5 linked regions of the Homo sapiens genome follow. The protein of the gene in region 2 purifies or fractionates together with the protein of the main gene of each other region. This does not show direct contact. Each region holds a gene or a part of one and is shown on either strand. Other genes may lie near its edges. The genes, in order: PEAK1, PEAK3, PRAG1, ASAP2 and ASAP1.

What was found.
Region 1: the proteins of PEAK3 (region 2) and PEAK1 purify together in Homo sapiens (affinity purification with western blotting; one study listed by BioGRID). This does not show direct contact.
Region 3: the proteins of PEAK3 (region 2) and PRAG1 purify together in Homo sapiens (affinity purification with western blotting, with the first as the bait; one study listed by BioGRID). This does not show direct contact.
Region 4: the proteins of PEAK3 (region 2) and ASAP2 purify together in Homo sapiens (affinity purification with mass spectrometry, with the first as the bait; one study listed by BioGRID). This does not show direct contact.
Region 5: the proteins of PEAK3 (region 2) and ASAP1 purify together in Homo sapiens (affinity purification with western blotting; one study listed by BioGRID). This does not show direct contact.

What each region holds. Positions count from the first base shown.
Region 1 is NC_000015.10:77,413,200-77,417,231, forward strand, and holds part of PEAK1 (inactive tyrosine-protein kinase PEAK1), read right to left. Parts: intron 1-4,032. UniProt on the Homo sapiens protein: Probable catalytically inactive kinase. Scaffolding protein that regulates the cytoskeleton to control cell spreading and migration by modulating focal adhesion dynamics. Acts as a scaffold for mediating EGFR signaling.
Region 2 is NC_000019.10:2,276,436-2,279,489, forward strand, and holds part of PEAK3 (protein PEAK3), read right to left. Parts: intron 2,679-3,054; coding exon 2,149-2,678; intron 55-2,148; coding exon 1-54.
Region 3 is NC_000008.11:8,376,304-8,380,335, forward strand, and holds part of PRAG1 (inactive tyrosine-protein kinase PRAG1), read right to left. Parts: intron 1,776-4,032; coding exon 1-1,775. UniProt on the Homo sapiens protein: Catalytically inactive protein kinase that acts as a scaffold protein. Functions as an effector of the small GTPase RND2, which stimulates RhoA activity and inhibits NGF-induced neurite outgrowth.
Region 4 is NC_000002.12:9,353,047-9,357,078, reverse strand, and holds part of ASAP2 (arf-GAP with SH3 domain, ANK repeat and PH domain-containing protein 2), read right to left. Parts: intron 1,033-4,032; coding exon 984-1,032; intron 901-983; coding exon 734-900; intron 1-733. UniProt on the Homo sapiens protein: Activates the small GTPases ARF1, ARF5 and ARF6. Regulates the formation of post-Golgi vesicles and modulates constitutive secretion. Modulates phagocytosis mediated by Fc gamma receptor and ARF6. Modulates PXN recruitment to focal contacts and cell migration.
Region 5 is NC_000008.11:130,051,497-130,056,099, reverse strand, and holds the end of ASAP1 (arf-GAP with SH3 domain, ANK repeat and PH domain-containing protein 1), read left to right. Parts: intron 1-1,294; coding exon 1,295-1,369; 3' UTR 1,370-3,996; downstream 3,997-4,603. UniProt on the Homo sapiens protein: Possesses phosphatidylinositol 4,5-bisphosphate-dependent GTPase-activating protein activity for ARF1 (ADP ribosylation factor 1) and ARF5 and a lesser activity towards ARF6.

The sequences.
Region 1 (4,032 bases), on a different chromosome or scaffold from region 2:
CAAAATATTTACCAATTACTGTGGTGGTTTTAATATATGTCCACAAATTCTTTTATACTTCTCCCTCCAGGAAGTGGAGTTTAATTTCCATCCCTTTAAGTGTGGGCTACACTTAGCAACCTGTTTCTAGTGCACGGACTATGGGAAAGGAAAAATAGTAACTTTACAGTGGACAAACCTAGCAGAAACCACCGTAACAGAGTGCTCACAAGTGATAAATTATTTGATATCATGCACCTCCTGTATGAAATAATAGGGGCACTTCACCTTTGCAGTACTCTCCCCCAAAATCCATAACCCCAATCTAATCATGAGAAAACATCAGACAAACCTAAACTGAAGAACATTCTACAAAATACTTGTGTCAAGGTTATAAAAGATAAGAAAAGACCAAGAAACTGCCACACATTGGGAGAGACAAAGAAGACAACTAAAGCAATGCAATATCAAGGTTTGGATAACAGAATGGAAAAAGAATACTAGAAAAACTGGTAAAATATTAAAGCAGTTTGAAGCTTGGTTGAAGCATCGTACCAATACTAATTTCTTAGCTTGATAAATGCACCATGGTTATGTAGGATGTTAACATTAGAGGAACCCAGGTGAAGAGTATATAGCAGCAGTTTTTCTGTTTGTTTCTTTGAGACAGGGTCTTACTCTGTTGCCCAGACTGGGGTGCAGTGGTGCAATCATGGCTCACTACAGCCTCTACCATCCAGGCTCAAGTGATCCTCTGACCTCAGCCTCCTAAGTAGCTAGGCCCACAGGCACATGCCACCACACCCGGCTAATTTATTATAGTTTTTAGAGATGAGGCCTCCCTATGTCGCCTAGGCTGGTCTTAAACTCCTGGGCTCAGACGATCTTCCCACTTCAGCCTCCCATAGTACTGGGATTACAGGAATAAGCCACCACACCCAGCCTGCATTTTCTTTCTTTTCTTTCTTTCCTTCCTTCCTTCTTTCTCTTTCCTTCCTTTCCTTCTGTCTTTCCTTCCTTCTTTCCTTCTTTTTTTTTTTTTTTTTTTTGAGACAGGGTCTTGCTCTGTCACCCAGGCTGGAGTGCAGTGGCACAATCACAGTTCACTGCAGATTGAACCTCCCAGGCTCAAGTGATCCTCCCACCTCAGCCTCCTGAGTAGGTGGGACTACAGGTGTGCACCACCATGCCTAGCTAATTTTTTGTATTTTTTTTTTTTTTTTGTAAGCGACGGGGTTTCACCATTTTGCCCAGGCTGATCTTAATGTCCTGACCTCAACCCACCTTGGCCTCCCAAAGTGCTGGGACTACAGGTATGACCCACTATGCCAGGCCCAATTACTGTATTTTCTATCTTATCCTCTGACTTGAAACGAACATGGTTTGGACAAGAAAGAATGGGCTTTGAATCCTGGTTCCATCACTTGACAGGGTGTGTCTGAATATGTTATTTAACCTTTCTAATCCTCAGTTTCTTCATCTGAAGGAGAACAAAGGAAATAATATAAGGTAAATAACAAAATTGTTGAGTTAGTGTTAGGATCAGAATTAGGTATTAAAGTGTCTAGCACATAGGAGGTACTCCACAAATAGAAGCTAGTATTATTTGCTCTTCATTTGCTCTACAGCTTCACACTGACTTCTAGCATTTCATGCTCCTCATTTTCTCCCAACTGGATCACCTCCTTACAGGCTTCCAGCTCATAATCCAGGAGGACTCCATAGTTCTTCAGTAGAGCTACAATACTCAATATCATTAATTCCCTCAACCAACTGTCCTTCAGATATCTCTACCAAACAGATATCTACAAAGCAGCAGATAACAGCCTGGGCAGAATTTAAACCCAAGCTGTTCATCTTACAAACAAGGAGAGTAACAGTAACAATACATAACTCATAAGGTTCTTGAGAGTATTAAATAGTTTCTTCAGATAGTCTGATCACTCACTGCTGGAGAAAAATCAACCACGAAAATTGGTACTGCTACAAATGTGAGGTCTACAATCTGAAATAAACAGGTCCTCAATGCTAACTAACAATCCTTCTTCAGTTTCCTAGTCATGTAACTAACAATCCTTCTTCAGTTTCCTAGTCATGTGTCTGTTTACCTCTCTCTCCCTTACCTCCACCCCATCCACTGTTAGCCATTCCCTTGGAAGCCGTTTACAAAGAGTATGTATAAACTACAGACTATCTTTTTTTCCATTCCTTTCACAGGGGTGGATTAATTTTACCTGGCTTTTTTGTTTGTGTGTGTGTTTTTTAAGAGATAGGGTCTCATTATGTTGCCCAGGCTGGCCTTCAACTTCTGGGTTCAAGCGATCCTCCTGCCCCAGCCTACTGAGTAGATGGGACTACAGGCACATGCCACAGCACTTGGCCTCACATACATTGTTTAAAAACTCCTATTCTACCACGTTCCCTTCACTCTTAGCAGATGATCAAAAATTACACAAGACATGTCATCAACTCTTCCTTCCTGCCCTGTCAGTTACAAACTTATTTACATTGCCATCCATCTCCTTCCTTTCTGCTCACTGGAAAAGTGAGACTACCTTCTACTTAAGACCAACTTCTCTGCCTACGCCCTGGATCCCATTCCTTATTACCTTCAAATCCTTGTCTCCATCCACCAGCCAGTCTCCCACGCCCACCAAACACACACATATACACTCTTCTTCAGTTTCTCCTCTCCAGTGGCTCTTTCCAGGCTCACATTAAGAATGTCCAAGATTCTCTAAATCCCAAGTATCTCCCCCTGCTTAAAGACTCCTTCAGAGTCCTTTGTTGAAAACATTGTACCCCTCTCAATTAGCTACACTTACAGTTGTCATTCACTTTTCAACACCCACCCCCATGCATTACAATGTAGCTAAGTGCTCTAGCTGAAGTTATAAAAGACATCCTAATCACCAAGTCTCAGAGACTTCATTAGGTCTTTATCTTACTTTTCCTTTTGGAGGCAGGATACAGTGTTGACCACTCCTAGCCCTTGAAATAATATTCTCCCTCAGCTTCCATGACAAATCTCTATTTCCTTTTTTCATCTTTGGTCTGTCTGGCACAGATGGTTGGCTTCTCTTCAGCTGCTTGCCCAATCTACTCAGCGGATCACAACAGAAATGTAGGAATCATCCAAAATCTTCAATCTTGCTCAATTCTATAATCTAAATAGATTTATCCTGTCCCGTTAATAATACTTCCTAAATCTCTCATAGAGCCACTCCCTCTTCTACACTCTTCATCATTTCTCACCAGGAATAGCTTCCTAACTGGTCCTTGCTTCCAGTTTTGTCCCTCTCTAATTCAATATTCACTTCACTGTCAAAATGACAGGTCTAAAATACAAATCTGATTCTACCACAGCATAATTTTTTTTCCCCACTAAATCCCCGCAACTTTTGGAATTAAGTTAAAGTTATTAACTTGGTTCACAAGACAATCATTGATTTGGCTTATTACTTCATCCACCCCTGTTCTAAAGCTGTGCTGCTGCTGTCCACTCACCTGCAGCTATTGAGTATGTGAATGTAGTTGTCCAAATTGAGATGTGCTATAAGTGTAAATTACACACCAGATTCTGAAAACAGTAGAAAATTATGCACCAGATTCTGAAGACAGTATGAAAATGGAAATGTCATATTTCAATATTACTTTTTATACTGAATGCATGTTGAAATGATATTTTGGATATACTGAGTTTATATTATTAAAATTAATTTCACTTTTTACTTTTTAAAATTTGGTTACTAGAAAATTTTAAATTGTATATGTAACATATTTGTGGCTTGTATTAAATTTTATAGGACAGCACTGGTATAAGATGTACTTTCCCTCTTTCTGGACCTAGTTAACTCTTACCTATTATTGAAGATTAGCTCAGGTAACACTCTAAGATGCATTCTAGACACCCTCCACCCATCCCCCGAAGTCTGAGTCAGCTACCCCTCCTCTGTGCTTCCATCCATAGGAATGTGTGCATGCCCCTGTCATACTATAATTATTGGTTATCACCTATCTTCTCCTCCTCAACTGTAAACTCCTTGCAAAAAG
Region 2 (3,054 bases):
GGCCTGCAGCTCCAGGCCCCACGGGTGGGGCACGTCCGCCCCGGGCTTGGGCACCTGCAAGGCAGAGGGGGTGTCGGGGCCTGGATCACTGGGCCCCCCACAAGCACCGCCTGCCCCAGTGCTACCTGCCCCGAAGCCTCCCACGCACACCCCCAAACTGCCCCCACTACGGCTAGGGGCTGCCTGCATCCCTCCAGCAGCAGGAGGTCAGTGTTAATTTGGAAGTTAGTCACCAGTAAGGACTTTCAGGAAAGTTAAGCCAGGGAAGAAGATGTTCCTGGGCAATGAGTTCGAAAGCAGATTCCTGGGCCGGGCGCGGTGGCTCACGCCTTCCCAGCACTTTGGGAGGCAGGGGGATCGCTGAGGTCAGGAGTTCGAGACCAGCCTGGCCAACGCAGGGAACGCTCGTCTCTACTAAAAAATGCAAAACTAGCTGGGCGTGGTGGCGCGCCTGTCATCCCAGCTACTTCGGAGGCTGAGGTGAGAGAATCGCTTGAGCCCGGGAGGTGGAGGTTGCAGTGAGCCGAGAACGCGCCACTGCACTCCAGCCTGGGCAACAGAGTGAGACTCTGTCTCAAAAACAAAAAACAAAACAAAAAACACAAAAGCAGATCCCCGGCCAGAGAGGTGTGGGAGGGGTTTTGACAAGAGCTCCAAGGCCATACCCATGGCCCCATACTTTAGAAACATGGTTTCCTGGGTTAACTGCGTTGATTCACGTGTTAGTTGCAAAATAAACAAGTCTAATATGGTCTGGATCTGTGTCCCCACCAAATCTCATTCCCCAGTGTTGGAGGTGGGGTCTGGTGGGAGGCGACTTGGATCTTGGGGGTGGTTTATCATGAATGGCTCAGCACCATCTCCCTTGGCACTGTCGTTGGGATAACGAGTGAGTTCTCGTGAGATCTGGCTGTGTAAAGGTGAGTAGCACCTCCTCCCTCCCTTCCTCCTGCTCCCACCGTGTGAGATGCCTGCTCCCGCCTCGCCTTCCACTATGATTGGAAGCTTCCTGAGGCCTCCCCAGAAGCAGAAGCCACCAGAACCATGAGCCAATTAAGGCCCTTTTCTCTATAAATTACCCAGTCTCCAGTATTCCTTTTTCTTTTCTTTTCTTTTTTCTTCTCTTTTGTTTTTCTTTTTTGAGACAGAGTCTCACTCTGTCGCCCAGGCTGGAGTGCAATAGCCCAATTTTCGAATCTCAGCTCACTGCAACCTCCGCCTCCCAGGTTCAAGTGATTCTCCTGCCTTAGCCTCCAAGTAGCTGGGACTTCAGGTGCGCACCACCGCGCCCGGCTAATTTTTGTATTTTTAGTAGAGATGGGGGTTTCACTATGTTGGCCAGGCTGGTCTCGAACTCCTGACCTCATGATCTGCCCGCCTTGGCCTTCCAAAGTGCTGAGATTACAGGCGTCAGCCACTGTGCTGCCCAGCCTTTTTTTTTTTTTTTAGACGGAGTCTCGCTCTGTCGCCCAGGCTGGAGCGCAGTGGTGCGTTCTCGGCTCACCGCAAGCTCTGCCCCCTGGGTTCATGCCATTCTCCTGCTTCAGCCTCCCAAATAGCTGGGACTACAGGTGCCCACCACCACGCCCGGCTAATTTTTTGTCTTTTTAGTAGAAACAGGGTTTCACCGTGTTAGCCAGGATGGTCTGTATCTCCTGACCTCGTGATCTGCCCGCCTCGGCCTCCCAAAGTGCTGGGATTACAGGTGTGAGCCACTGTGCCCGGCCTTTTTCTTTTTTTTTTTTTTGAGACGGAGTCTCACTCTGTTGCCCAGGCTGGAGTGCAATGGCCCAATCTTGGCTTACTGCAACCTCTGCCTCCCGGGTTCAAGCAATTCTCCTGCCTCAGTCTCCCAAGTAGCTGGGTTTACAGGCGCCCGCCACCACACCTAATTTTTGTATTTTTAGTAGAGGCTGGGTTTCACCATGTTGGCCAGGCTGGTCTTGAACTCCTGACCTCAGCTGATCCGCCCGCCTTGGCCTCCCAAAGTGCTGGGATGACAGGCGTGAGCCACCGCGCCCGGCTCCAGTATTTCTTTACAGCAGTGTGAGAACTGACTCACAGAAAGGCCAAATGAAACAAGCCCTGGGTTATGTCTAAGATGGGGCACTGGGGACACCTCAGAGAGGGTGGGGCTGTGGGGCTCACCTTGGCGACCAGGATGTGCCAGGCGTCCTCGTGCGCGCGCACCACGCGGTAATACAGGGCGTCCCCGCTCTCTGCGCAGGGTGAGCTGTCTAGGAGGCGGAAGCTGTGGCCGGGGTGGCAGGGCCCGGGGTGGCCCCCCATGAGCCGGGCACGGAGCCGGGCATAGATGGTACGGAGGCCCTGCAGCTGCCGCGCAGCCAGTGCAGTGTGCACAGCCTCCGGGCTGTGCAGATCGCGGAGGGAGAGGCCCAGTGGGGCGTCAGCCGGGCCAAAGGTCAGCTCTGCAGGGAGACAGGCTGGTCCCACTGCAGCCTGGCTCTTGTCCACACTGTGGGACCCCAGAAAGGGTCTCCGAGGCGGCTGTACTTGGATGGAGCTGGGATGGAGGGTCCTGCGGGTGGGCAGTGACTGGGTCCGGGTTAGGATCTTCTTGGGCAGGGGTGGGGGCAGGGGCTCTGGGTTGGTGGAGAGGGACCCAGGGGTCCGGAGGCGGCAGGCCTTGGAGGGCAGCAGGTGGGCACGGATCTGACCTGCAGGGAGAGACAGTGGGGGAGGGTTGAGGACAGGCGGAGTGGGAACGGGACACGTGACTCCACCTCTCAGCCTCGGTTTCCCCATCTCTAACATGGAAGTAATGAGGCTGGGCGCCGGTGGCTCATGCTTGTAATCCCAGCACTTAGGAAGGTGGAAGCCGAGGCAGGAGGATCACTGGAACCTAGGGTTTGAGACCAGCCTGGGCAACATAGTGAGACCCTGTCTCTGCAAAAATTTTTTAAAAATTTGCCGGACGCGGCCATGCACAATGGCTCATGCCTGTAATTCCAGCACTTTGGGAGGCCGAGATGGGTGGATCACGAGGTCAGGAGATCGAGACCATCCTGGCTAACACGGTGAAACCCCGTCTTT
Region 3 (4,032 bases), on a different chromosome or scaffold from region 2:
GGGAACTCAAAGGCAAAAGAGGCGGATTTGCTCATCCCGGTCCCAACTTTGCTGTTCTGCCCAGAGGAGCCATCTGTGGGGTGGAGACGGTGCCAGGTCGTGGAGTTTGAATGGTCCGTGGGGCCATTTTTGGTCTCTCTTCCCCAGCTGTGACTCAGCAATTCCTGCTCCACCTCCTCTTCTTCCTCTATCCGGCACTGACGACTCCAGGTGCCTGCCTGGAACCTGGGCCGCCTCTGTTCCGAGGCTGACGAGGCGGCAGGCTGGGGACACCTGGATGGGTCACTGATAGCGACACCGTTGGTCCGGCAGGAAGGAGCGGGGTCAGCAGGACCTTGGGATGGAGGCTGGGGCCCAATGCTGCTGCCGCCAGAGCTCCCATCACTAAGGTCAGCCAGCGGTGACACTGGGGGCCCTCCAGCAGACGGTGACACCGGGGACCCTACAGGGCTACTCTTGGACAACTTGGGGGGAATGGCGGGCCTCTCCTTGGGCTTGCTCTCGCTGGCACTGTGAGCATGGCTTTCCCTGGAGCTCAGCCCCTGCCCAGCCGAAGTCTCCTCTTCACCTACCTCGGAGTTCTGGCTCACAGGCCCTCGTGGCCACTGCACCCCCACTGCAGAGTCAGGGCTGCTCAGGTAGATCGTCCGATGGTCCTCTTCCGGGTGGGCCGCCATGACTGTGATGGTGGCTGACACCTGGGGAGTTGGGTCTGGGCTGTCCCGGCCCCAGCCAGATGCTGCTTTCTGGGCCCAGGCATTACCTGTGCATACCTGGCCTTGGCCCTGGGCAGCAGCTGCATGTTCTATCTTGGCCTGTGACTTGGAAGGCACCGGAGCTGCCTTCTTCCTCTTGGTGCTCTCAGCATAGATGGGTTCAGGCTGTGTAGCCTCCCGGGGGTGGGCCGGGGGCTGGGGCTCCCCCGTCAGCCCAAGGCATCTGCTAGGGGTCACCCCTGGGCAGCCAGGGTCCTGCTGCTTCTCTGGGGCAGGTTCCTTCATGAGGGAGCAGTAATCACTCTCGAGGTGGGGGACGAAGGGGCTACTGGCGCCGCTGCCGCTGCCGCTGCCGCTGCCACAAGAGAGGCCGTCGGAAGAAATGGCAGCCTCCGAGGTGAGGGACAGTTTCTTGGGGCCCAGGCAGGATGGGTGGGCAGTGGGGCCCTGGCTACAGCACTCCTTGGGGAAGCTCGGGCCCCGCTTCTCCTGCTCTGCGGGCCCGGAACACTTCCCCTGCTCCCAGCACGTGGGTGAGCAGTCCCTGCCACCATGCCTGCCCCGGGAACCTGCAGTCTGGGAGGCAGCCTTGGCAACAGGGCTCCCAGGGCAGCAGTCCAGGATGGAGCAGTACTCTCCACCCTCGCTGTCCCCGGAGGGCGAGCACCTTTGATCACTGTCATCCTCCGAGGGCAGGGATTCCCGCAGGGGCCCAGGGCCCTGGTGACAGCCAGATGTGGTCCCAGCAAAGGCAGCCAGTTTCTGGCGGAAGCTCTCCTGGGTGGAGGGCCGGTCTTGGTAAGGAAATGAGGGTTTTTCTTTGTGCACAGCCTTCTCCTCCGGGAAGCTCACCGGGTGGAAGGCAATGTTCCTCTCGCCGCGGGGCTCAAGGTTGTGCAGGCCGACCATGGTGTAAGCTGGGGGACAGCGAGAATTGCCATCAGGGGAGGTAGAGGGACCAGCAGGCTTCTGTACACCTCGGAAGCTGCCCAGGTAGACGACGGGGGCATCCTCCTGCTTCGGGAGGGGGAGCTTGCCAGGGGCTCGTCTCCAGATGACCTACACACAAGCCCAACGCAAAAAGACTTATATTAGAACTTGTCATAGAAAAAAGAGAGAGAGGAAAAGTGAGAGGGAAGGGCAACGATACTGTAGAATGTCTTCTGTAGTGCAGTGCAGGGGCGCTGGGGCCGGGGACTCAGTGCACGCCCACCTTCTCATCTCCCCACGGCCCTGTGATCATTGCTGGGGCACCCGCTGAGCCATTTGTCTTCCCAGACACTGAGCTGCCCTTCCTACCCATGGACTGTAATGCTTTTGGCTTAAGTCTGTGAAGTAGGAAAAGAAAAATATAACTCTGAAAAAGAACACTGTGCCTTCTTCCTCCCTTGCAACCAGCTGCTGGGTGACACAAGTTGTTCCACTGGATTGGAAAATGGAGCTTGGGGTTTTGTTTAATTTTTGCTTTGAGTTTGTGGGTTTTTTGATAACCCAATCACAGTGCATGCCTGAAGAAATCGAAGTCTTAAGTGTTTTTAAAACACACTGAACACACTGGAGCCAGATGCCGTGGCTCATACCTGTAATCCCAGCACTATGGTGGGCCGAGGAGGGCAGATTGCTTGAGCCCAGGAGTTCAAGACGAGCCTGGGCAACATGGCCAAATCCCATCTCTACAAAAAAATACAAAAACTTGGTGGGCGTGGTGGTGTGTACCTACAGTCCCAGCTACTTGGGAGGTTGAGGTGGAAGGATGTCTTGAGCCCAGGAGGCGGAGGTTGCAGTGACCCAAATCACACCACCACACTCCAGCCTGGGCGACAATGCCAGACCCTGTACCAAAAATAATGATAATTAATAATAATAATAATAAAGAAAAAAGAAACACATTGGGTGGGTGGGTGTGGGCAGAACAGGAGGGTGAGGGGTGGTTTCTGAACCGGATCAGGGTGAGGGGTGGTTTCTGAACCAGATCAGAGTGAGGGGTAGTTTCTGAACTGGATCAGGGTGAGGGGTGGCTTCTGAACCGGATCAGAGTGAGGGGTGGTTTCTGAACTGGATCAGGGTGAGGGGTGGCTTCTGAACTGGATCAGAGTGAGGGGTGTTTTCTGAGCTGGATCAGGGTGAGGGGTGGCTTCTGAACTGGACCTGGGCTTCCTCGCTTCTTTCTGTGCTTTGCTTCCAACTATGCCAGAGGTCATCTTTCTCCCGCCTACAGCAGTGACCTCAGCCTGAGCCTGTGCGAGTGGTTGGACTCGTTGGGCTATGAGACAGAGATGTGGACTGGTCATTACCATCCCTGAAGTCACCGTTTCCTCCTCCTTCTGGTCTAAAGTCCTCCTTTACCCCCACTTTTAGAAGCAGCCTCAAAGCAGGGCCTGCCTCTGGCTTCTTTCCCAGGTGATTCTGAGCTTAAAGAGTCCCTGGCTCAGGTTGGTGAAGGTTGAAGGTATTGAGAATGGCCTGGAGAATGGGTGTAAGCAGCTTAGGAAAAAACAGAGCAGCCCGGAAGGGGACATCAAGTTCACTGCAACCAAAGGAAATGCCTCTCCTCAATGAAGACTCCCCTGATTTAGAATTGACCTTAGTTTTCATATATGCTCACACAGCCTTCCTGACCTACTCACCATATTGGTCAAGAAAACTAGAACAGGCAAAGAGGTCAAACAGGTAGCAAGCAGTTCCTAGGATATGTCTTAGCCACATAGCTTCCTAAATGTGTCTAAAGACAGCAGATGCCAGCAGACCCGGGCTATGTGCCCTCTGAGTTTGTAAAGGTTACCTGTGGAATGAGCAGAATGGTCTAGCCTCTAGGTTGTAACTGTTTTTAGTGACCCTAGAAGAAAGCTGGTAAAATCCAAGCTTCAAAATTGGAAACAGGAGTACTGGCTGGGTATTAGATAATATTAAGGAATTACTGCTAATATTCTGAAGTGTGGGGCCAGGCATGGTGGCTTATGCCTATAATCCCAGCACTATGGGAGGCTGAGGCAGATGGACCACTTGAGCCTAGGAGTTTGAGACCAGGAACTTAAGACCAGCCTGGGCAAGACAGCAAGATCCTATCTCCACCAAAAAACAAAAACAAAAACAAAAAAACGCCAAATAAGCCAAGCATGGTGGCATGTACCTCTAGTCTTAGATTCCTAGGAGGCTGAGACAGGAGGATCACTTGAGCCTGGGAGGTGGAGATTGCAGTTAGCCGAGATCGCAACACTGCACTCCAGCCTGAGCAACACTGAGACTGTCTCAAAAAAAAATAAATAAATAAAATAAAAATTAAAAACTAAAAAAATAGGCCAGGCGCGGTGGCTCA
Region 4 (4,032 bases), on a different chromosome or scaffold from region 2:
AAAATTGTCATAGAATTAGAGGAATGAAAAGGGGATTAACCATTCTAGCCAAGCCTCCATCTTTTTCATTTTATAAATGTTCAGAAAATGCACCTGTGTAGTCCCCGACCCCCACTCCCCACCATTGTGTCTCAATTAGAATAAGCAAATTCCTTAAATCACATCCTACTATAAAGCCCCTAATATGCTTTATCAAAATGTAAAAATAAAATCTTATTTCACAGAATGTGTCAGCTGAAAGGGTCCTGTCCCTTCACTTTACAGACAGGAAAATCGATGTTTAACAAAGCAAGTGGCTCTCCCAGGGTCACAGAGCCAGACAGCGGCTTAAAGCTACTTCAGAAGTTCTGCAAAGTAGGATAAAGGGAGAAGAGAGCAGATTCCAAGCAAGGAAGCCCATCCACATGCAGCCTCTCAGCCCACATGACCTTGAGTTCACTCTCACTGTACCCTTCAGTTTTCATTTCTCAAAAAGCATTTCAAACTTTGCAGCTCTGTCAAACCCTCTTTACTCAGTCCTGCTCTGGGGCCCGGCAGGCAAACATCTTCCCGCCCCTCTCCCCTGCCGCGGTCTGCACAGTTCATTAAGCATTTGTGTAATGGGATGAACTCAGGCTGAGCTGCACTTAATTTCGTGTTTGAAATGAAAGTGAAAATCAATGAACGGATTCTGTGAATCAGAATGGGATTGAAATGTCCTAGAGCCCAGGGTCGGGTGGGGTCCCTGGGTCACCTGGCGCCCCACAGTCACAGCAGACGTCATTGCCCGTCATCCTCTGCACTTCTGAGATGATCTCCTTTGTCAGTTCTTGGACGATGTTATTTTCTCCAGTATTGTCATCCCCCTTAAATGCATTGTTTAAAGCTTCTTCTTTGCTATTTTGCAGCACAGACATCCATCTAGAAAAACAAGAGCAACGCTGTGTTAAATTCCACAAACAACGGCTGAGTCCAGCCCAAAGTCCCACCACCATGTAACTTACATTTGACATTCCTGTTCATCTTCAGCTTGAAAGTGGTAAGTTCTGTCATCTGCATAGCAAGAGGAATTTCAACTGTGAGCCCAGACAGCAATCCATACACAATTCCAAAAGAAAATAGTTTCTAATTAGCCTCTGGAATAATCTTAGCTCTCTGTTACGAAATTACTGATTTGTATAAAATCAGGCACTCCCTCATATCCTCCAAATGTCTGCCTTCACCAACGGTGGCATTCTAATGCAAAATAAACCTGCCCTTTCCCTCATTCAAGTTTTAAAAGACGCCGCTTCTAAAAACTGAAGCTATTCAATGAAAACCATCACTATCCTCTCAATAGCTTCATTTTAACTCACTACAGAGTTGGCCCCCAAAAAGTAATTGTTCAAGCCCTTTGAATAATAAAAACCTTTTTTAAAAAGAATATCTTAGAAGTTTTCTGGCTTTCTCAGAAAAAGATTAGTATGAGAAATTCTAAGAATAATATGCTTTGAGAATCAAATACTAGAAATGTAGCTAAATCAAGAGGAGTGTGTTAAATAATGGTCGAATATAAAATCCTACACTTACATACTGCTGGTGTCAGCACAGTTTTACAAGTGTTTTGCCAGGCTGTGGACCTGTGTGTGTGTGCAGCAGGGAGGCGGCTGTGTGGGATGTGGCAGCATCATTCTGTGCTGCTCTTGCCAAAAACATATAACCTCAATCCACTCATGAGAAAACACTAGAGAAATCCAAATTAAGGGGAGTCTGACCAAAAAACAGGTCAATACTCTTTAAGAAGGCATCATGAAAAACAAGTGAGACTACAGAACCGATACAGACTGCAAGAGACCAGGATAAAATCACAACTAAATGTAACATGGGGTTCTGGATAGAATTCTGGAACAGAAAAAAGGACATTTGGGGGAAAACTGGTAAAATCTGAGTAAGATTTTTAGTTAATAGCATCAAACCAATGTTTCCTGGTTTTGATAACTACATAAATATGATTGGATAACATGTACCACGGACTACTGGATAACTGTATTAAGATGTTAACAGAAGGGAAAGCTAGGGGAGGGATATATGGATATTCTCTGTCTAAAAGCAGTCTAAAACCAAAGCAAAAAATAAAATTATATTTAATAAAGAAAAGCAGGGGCAGGGGAATCCAGCTTTTGCAGATGGCAGAATGATGACAAGTACCAATTCTCTTCTTAGGGAAACACAACGAACATCTGTGCTCCTAAAAGTGAGTGGACACGCCACCTCTCTGTAGTGGTGTTTACTCCTGAAAGCACGTTGGTTCTTAGAACAACTCTTGGTAAGTGACTGGGTGAGGGCTGAAGCCTAGAGAGGCTAAGCTGCAAAAAACAAGCATAGCCAGCAGCAGAACTTGGTTCCTGGACTTCTGGCCCGACCACTTTCTACAACACCATGGCATCTTTTTCTTTTTCTTTTTTTTTTTTTTTTGAGACGGAGTCTCACTCTGCTGCCCAGGTTGGAGTGGAGTGGTGCAAACGTGCAGTGCACAGCTCGCTGCAGCCTCAATCTCCCAGGCTCAAGCGATCTTCCCACCTCAGCCTCCCAAAGTACTGAGATGACAGGCGTGGGCCACCGCACCTGGCCAATTTCTGCATTCTGACGTGTAAAAACTGCACAAGCAGGAGGCAAACCTCTGAGGAAAAACTTCAAGCAAGAATCCCCTCCACTACACTCTCTTTAAAGATGCTACAAATAAGCGGACGGCTTCCAGAGCTTCAGCCGTGAGGGAGAAGAGCAGGAGGAGACAGAGGGGGCGATCGGAGCACTCAGGTGCTGGTGGCCAGTGAAGGGCAGCTTGTGGCCAGGGCTCTGGCTCTACTGGCCGCTAACCTGCCATGTGGACCTGGAAGGTCATTGACTCCCTCTGGCTCCATCCTACTCAGGGGACTCACTTGGGTCACCTCACAATTCTACTGTTCCTTCCATCCCTCCCAGGGTGCCTATGGGGTTCGCGGATAATGGCTCAGGACTTGAATTTGCTATGAGTGGGGTCGGTCTGCAGGCAATGGATTAGATGAGCTCCCAGAAGGGCCGGCCTTGCCACAGAACCATCCTCCTAGAAAAGCCCATGCTCATTTACATCTTTTTCTTTTTTTAAAGAGACAAGGTCTCCCTCTATTACCCAGGCTACAGTGCAGTGGCACAATCACAGCTCACTGCAGCCTCAAACTCCTGGACTCAAGTGATCCCCCCACCTCAGCCTCCCAAGTAGCTTGGACTATAGGTGTGAGCCACTGCCCCTGGCCCCAATTCCACCTTCATGAGAATGGGAAGCCCCTGTTTAGGAGCAAGGATGGTAAAGGAACATCTTGTAGGAAGTAACTGCAACCAGCCAGCCAGTCTATTGCTCTTCTGAGTTCTCTGGGCAGATTCCAAGATGAACTGACCAGATGAGGAAGAGGAGGAATGGGTGACCATGGAGTGCCTGGCAGATGCACACAGAAAATATCACCCTCACTGCCTCAATGCATGTGCCTCCACTTGACTTCCCCAACTGCCCAAATGTCTTTTTTTTTTTTTAGACAGTCTTGCTGTGTTGTCCAAGCTGGAGTGCAATGGCACGAACACAACTCACTGCAACCTCAACCTCCTGAACTCAAGCGATCCTCCCATCTCAGCTCCCTGAGTAGCTGGGACCAAAGGCACATGTCACCATACTGCACTATTTTTAAATTTTTTGTAGGTCTTGCTATGTTGCCCAGTCTGGTCTCGAACTCCTGACCTCAAGCAATCCTCCCACCTTGGCCTCCCAAAGTGCTTGCATTACAGGCATGAGCCACTGCCTGGCCCACCCAGGCAGTTCAAAAGCATCTTGAGAGTTCAAAAGCATCTTGGTGATACTCATCCCATGAGGCTGGTGAGGAAGTAGAGGAGGAATCTGAGAGGGGTGAAGACAGATGCTCCTCAATCAGCCAGAATCAGGTCTTGACCCCATGTCCCTCACCTTCTCAGGATGTTCATCAAATCACGGCTTATACTGCAGCCAGGTTTCCTGTGATGACTCTCTGGGGTATCTGGCCAGTTTTC
Region 5 (4,603 bases), on a different chromosome or scaffold from region 2:
TCAAGCAGTGATCATGTTCTTTGCTAAGCAACTGATGACTACAGCAGAGATACCTGCGGGGAATGGGAAGCTGTCATTGGTGTCCCTAGCATCATTCCTAGGGGACATTGTGTGTGCCACCATTACGTGCCTCGCCAGATGTAAAGATGGTGCCACACACACATGCTAACTGTGATGTGAAATTCACAAAGACCTCACACATGCATGATGCCAACTAAGACCACACGCGGTGGGTGGGCAAGCCTTCAGGAGAGCTGGGCAGGCCTGGTTGACTCTGTTCCACTCTTAAAACCACCTTCCTCTCTATCGATTTGGCATTGGAAGCCAATATGCACGATTTTGTTTTTTCTATTGAAGGCCCATTACATGATTCTCTTTAGTGCAATCAATACTAATCTAATTGAGGTAATTAGAAAATTTTTACAGGTAACTGGCTTACAGGCCAATGCAGCAGACAATAAAATTGCCATTCGCCACCATCAGTCTCAAACTTTCACAGTATTCTTCCTCCACGGTAACCAGAAAACAAGTGATAGTACATAGCAGCCTTTTTTTTTTTTTTTTACTGGCTAGAACAACACTTTACTCACAAAGAGAAGAGACAGAACAAGATTAGCTTTGATTTGAGTATGGTACCCCGCAGTGGGTCTTGCCAGGCAGCTGACACAGCTTAATGGTCTGTATGCATCCTACCTGGGCTGTGGGCAAAGAAACCCCTTCCTTCCCAACTAGGAATAGGTAATAGTACTGGGATTGGCCAGGTGCCATAGCAGCCTTTTCATTTGCTTTTTTTTTTTTTTTTCTTTTTTAAATGTATCACACAAGCCTGGAGAGAAGGGATTTTCTTTAGCCCCACTTAACAGAGAAAAGGCTTAGCAAGGTTTGTGTGAGGTCACCCAGCTGTAAAGGCAGCCAGGCGCCCTGGTTCAGAGCAAGGACTCTAGAGCCCCACGCCTGTGGGAGAGCATGTCACCTCTCTGGGCCACTGTCCCTTCATCTGTAAAATGAAGATTGTAAACTGTATAAGAAATATCCACCTCAGGGGGTTGCTGTGTGGGTACAGCAAGATCCATGTAGAATGCTGAGCATATTGGAAGTTCTGTCGTTTGCTCTTTCCTTATGTAGTTTATGACCGTTAAGCTCTCTGTAGTTCACTAAAGGGTGGGAAGAAGGGTAAGCCTGGGATTCCACCGCCAGGTCTGTGGGCAGACTAGGCTGGGCTCTTACCCACTGGGTTTGTCGTGGGGCCACTGCCTGCTGCCTCCATCCTGACCACTCTCTTTTCTCCCTGCAGATTGGCCACATCGAAGGACAGCCTGAAAGGAAGGGGGTCTTTCCAGTGTCCTTTGTTCATATCCTGTCTGACTAGCAAAACGCAGAACCTTAAGATTGTCCACATCCTTCATGCAAGACTGCTGCCTTCATGTAACCCTGGGCACAGTGTGTATATAGCTGCTGTTACAGAGTAAGAAACTCATGGAAGGGCCACCTCAGGAGGGGGATATAATGTGTGTTGTAAATATCCTGTGGTTTTCTGCCTTCACCAGTATGAGGGTAGCCTCGGACCCGGCGCGCCTTACTGGTTTGCCAAAGCCATCCTTGGCATCTAGCACTTACATCTCTCTATGCTGTTCTACAAGCAAACAAACAAAAATAGGAGTATAGGAACTGCTGGCTTTGCAAATAGAAGTGGTCTCCAGCAACCGTTGAAAGGCATAGAATTGACTCTGTTCCTAACAATGCAGTATTCTCAATTGTGTTACTGAAAATGCAACATTAGCAAAGAGGTGGGTTCTGTTTTCCAGGTGAAACTTTTAGCTCCATGACAGACCAGCCTGTAGTTATCTGTGTACACAGTTTACAGCTACAAAAACCTACTTTGGTATTTATTACAGAAAAGTGCTCAGTTAAATGTAAGTGTTATTCCTTCAGCAAAATATTCACTGACCCAAAACTCTTTATGGCATTTTACAATGCACACAGCCTCATGCAAGTTTAGACAAGTGGATTTATACTGTCTTATGAGTGCCCGCCCCTGATATATTACCTCATTATGCAAAAATAACATATCTTTCATGACTATTTTGACAAAAGTTTAAAACACATATGAAGTTCAAATTTCAGGAACCAAGGACTGCCAGAAAATATTAGCCTCTACATTACGCATGCATTTAGAAGCTTACCTGAAATCTGCCTTTTATAAAGGAATAGTATGGATAAGTGGAATTGTACATTTTTTAAACTTGATTGCCATTAAAGCAGAAATTATAAGGTTGCAACAATATTTGTTTCTAATCACTGGCTTTCTCAAGAGTATGGATTGACATATTGTGTTATGAATGCACATCTCTCAGATGTGTTGAAGCATCCATTGCATCCATTTTTTATTATTTTCTTAGTTTTGTTCTTGGACAAATTTAAACTTTTAAAAGATTATTCAAGATGAATTTAAAAGTCAACCCTTCACACAGTTTCCCTACTGTATGTAGAATCCAGGTGCTGAAACCAAGTGTTTCTTTTCCCATGCTCTTTGTTAAACCCCAATTATAGATAATTTTTCCAGTCTTAAGCTCTGTCCACCTTCAAGTCAATTCATAACCAAGTTTTTGAACGCTGCTATGAATTGCACTGTGAAAAGCACTCTTCCCTCTCAGTTTTCTTTTCATCCCAGCCATGTTTATCAGATCCTTAAGAACATTGTATTTCAGTCTTTTACATCAGTCTGAATTTTGGAAAAGAATGCAATAGTTGTACTCCACAGTCAGTGGAACTGTTCCCTGAGTCCGAGGCTCATGTGTCATTCTGGCACTACATTTGCTTAAATTGCTATTTTGGCAACAGCACAGAAAACTAATATTTTTAAGCAGAGAATCTTGGCAATGAGTGAGAGATGTTAATTTCACAGAAGCACAACTCCCAACCCAACCCTTAGGAAAAGCCCTCTTCCATCGTTACAGTGCTCAGTGAATATTAATTTAGTTCTGCTTAAGTGGTTGCTATACAAACTTTGAATAGCCACCTAATAAATAAACCTTGCATGACAAACCTGCAAAATATTTTATCAGCTGTTATTGGAAAGTGATTTTAAGCAATTGCTTCCTCAGTGTCAGGGCACATGTGAATTTCCACACCAAACAGAGCATGAGGAACCAGTTGACATGCTGGGTTGTGACTGGCAGCTTTAGCAGCCTCGGTACTGAAGCCACACCAGTGTCCGGATGGAAGTCTGCATCTGAGGTTGCTCAGTGTCCCGGTCATTCATTTACACATTTTAACTTGCATTAAAGAGCTGTTCTTTTCTGTGGCCTAGACTCTTTTCACTGATCTCAAAATAAACTGGTTTTTTTCAAAAAAAAAAAAAAAACAAAAACAAAAAAAAAACACAAAAGCTGCATGTCTAAAATTACATGGAGTTAGTGTCTATTCTTTTTCCCCTTTTGCAGCAACTTACACAGCATTTTTAACACCTTTTTTTTCTAGTTTTTTTGTTCGGTTTTGTTTTCCATCAGGAATTTGAGTTCTCTCTAACCCAGCTTACTGTGGGACATAGGAAAACTCAGTAGAAATACCTTTGGTGATCTTGTTGAGTTTAAGTCTGATCTTGATCTTAAACTCAGTAAGCCACTATCTGCAATTTTGTACATTATATAGTATTTTGAAGATATGGAACCTTATGAAAAAAAAATAGCAAATTAGTTCTTTTTCCCCCAGAGGGGAAAGTTATGTTCTGCAAATAGTGTGTGTCTTATTTTACTGTTGAACAGCAATTGCTATTTATTTTTTTATTGCCTAGAACTTCAACATGTTGTATAGGAATCCTGTAGTGCCACTAGTTAAATGCCGAATTCTCATCTGGATGTTACCATCAAACATCAGTACACTTGTCATTTCACATGTGTTTAATGTGACAGTTTTTCAGTACTGTATGTGTTAATTTCTACTTTTTTTAATATTTAAAATTGCTTTTAAATAAACATATTCTCAGTTGATCCCAAACTTCTGAAATCAGGCCATTTTGTGAGTTGTTCACTACCCTGCTGACAGGAGAGAATCAAGGCTTCCTCTGGCTGTGCTTTCGGGTATATAGATGACACAGGTCACTCCAACCCTTGTCAGAGATCACTCTGGATACATAAAAATATGTGGCACTTGCCCCGGCTTACAAACTGTGGGCCTTCGGCCCCTTTCTGTCCTCCACCTTCCGCATTCCACCTCCACCACGTCCACTTGTGCGCCCGTTGATGTGAACAGGGCAAGAAGAGGGTGGAGGGGCACGAGGCTTACATGTTGTCGTGTGGACAGCACTTCTGTCACGTAGCTGTCACAACTAGTGCTGCCACGCAGTGGAGCAGACCTGGCCCAGGCACTCTGCCTGCATTAACCCCTGAATCCTTAGCAAGCCCAGGAGAAGCGTGAGCCCCTCAGCTTTACAGAGCTGACAAATGAGGCTCAGAGGCATTCATTCACACACAGGAGACATGTGGCTTGTAAATCACTAAGGTGGGAGTGCACACAGGTGGTTCTGGCTCCAAGGCCATCCTTGCAATTCCCACTGCCTGGAAGACACTCTCCTTTATGGAGAACCACAGTGGCGGAAAGCAGG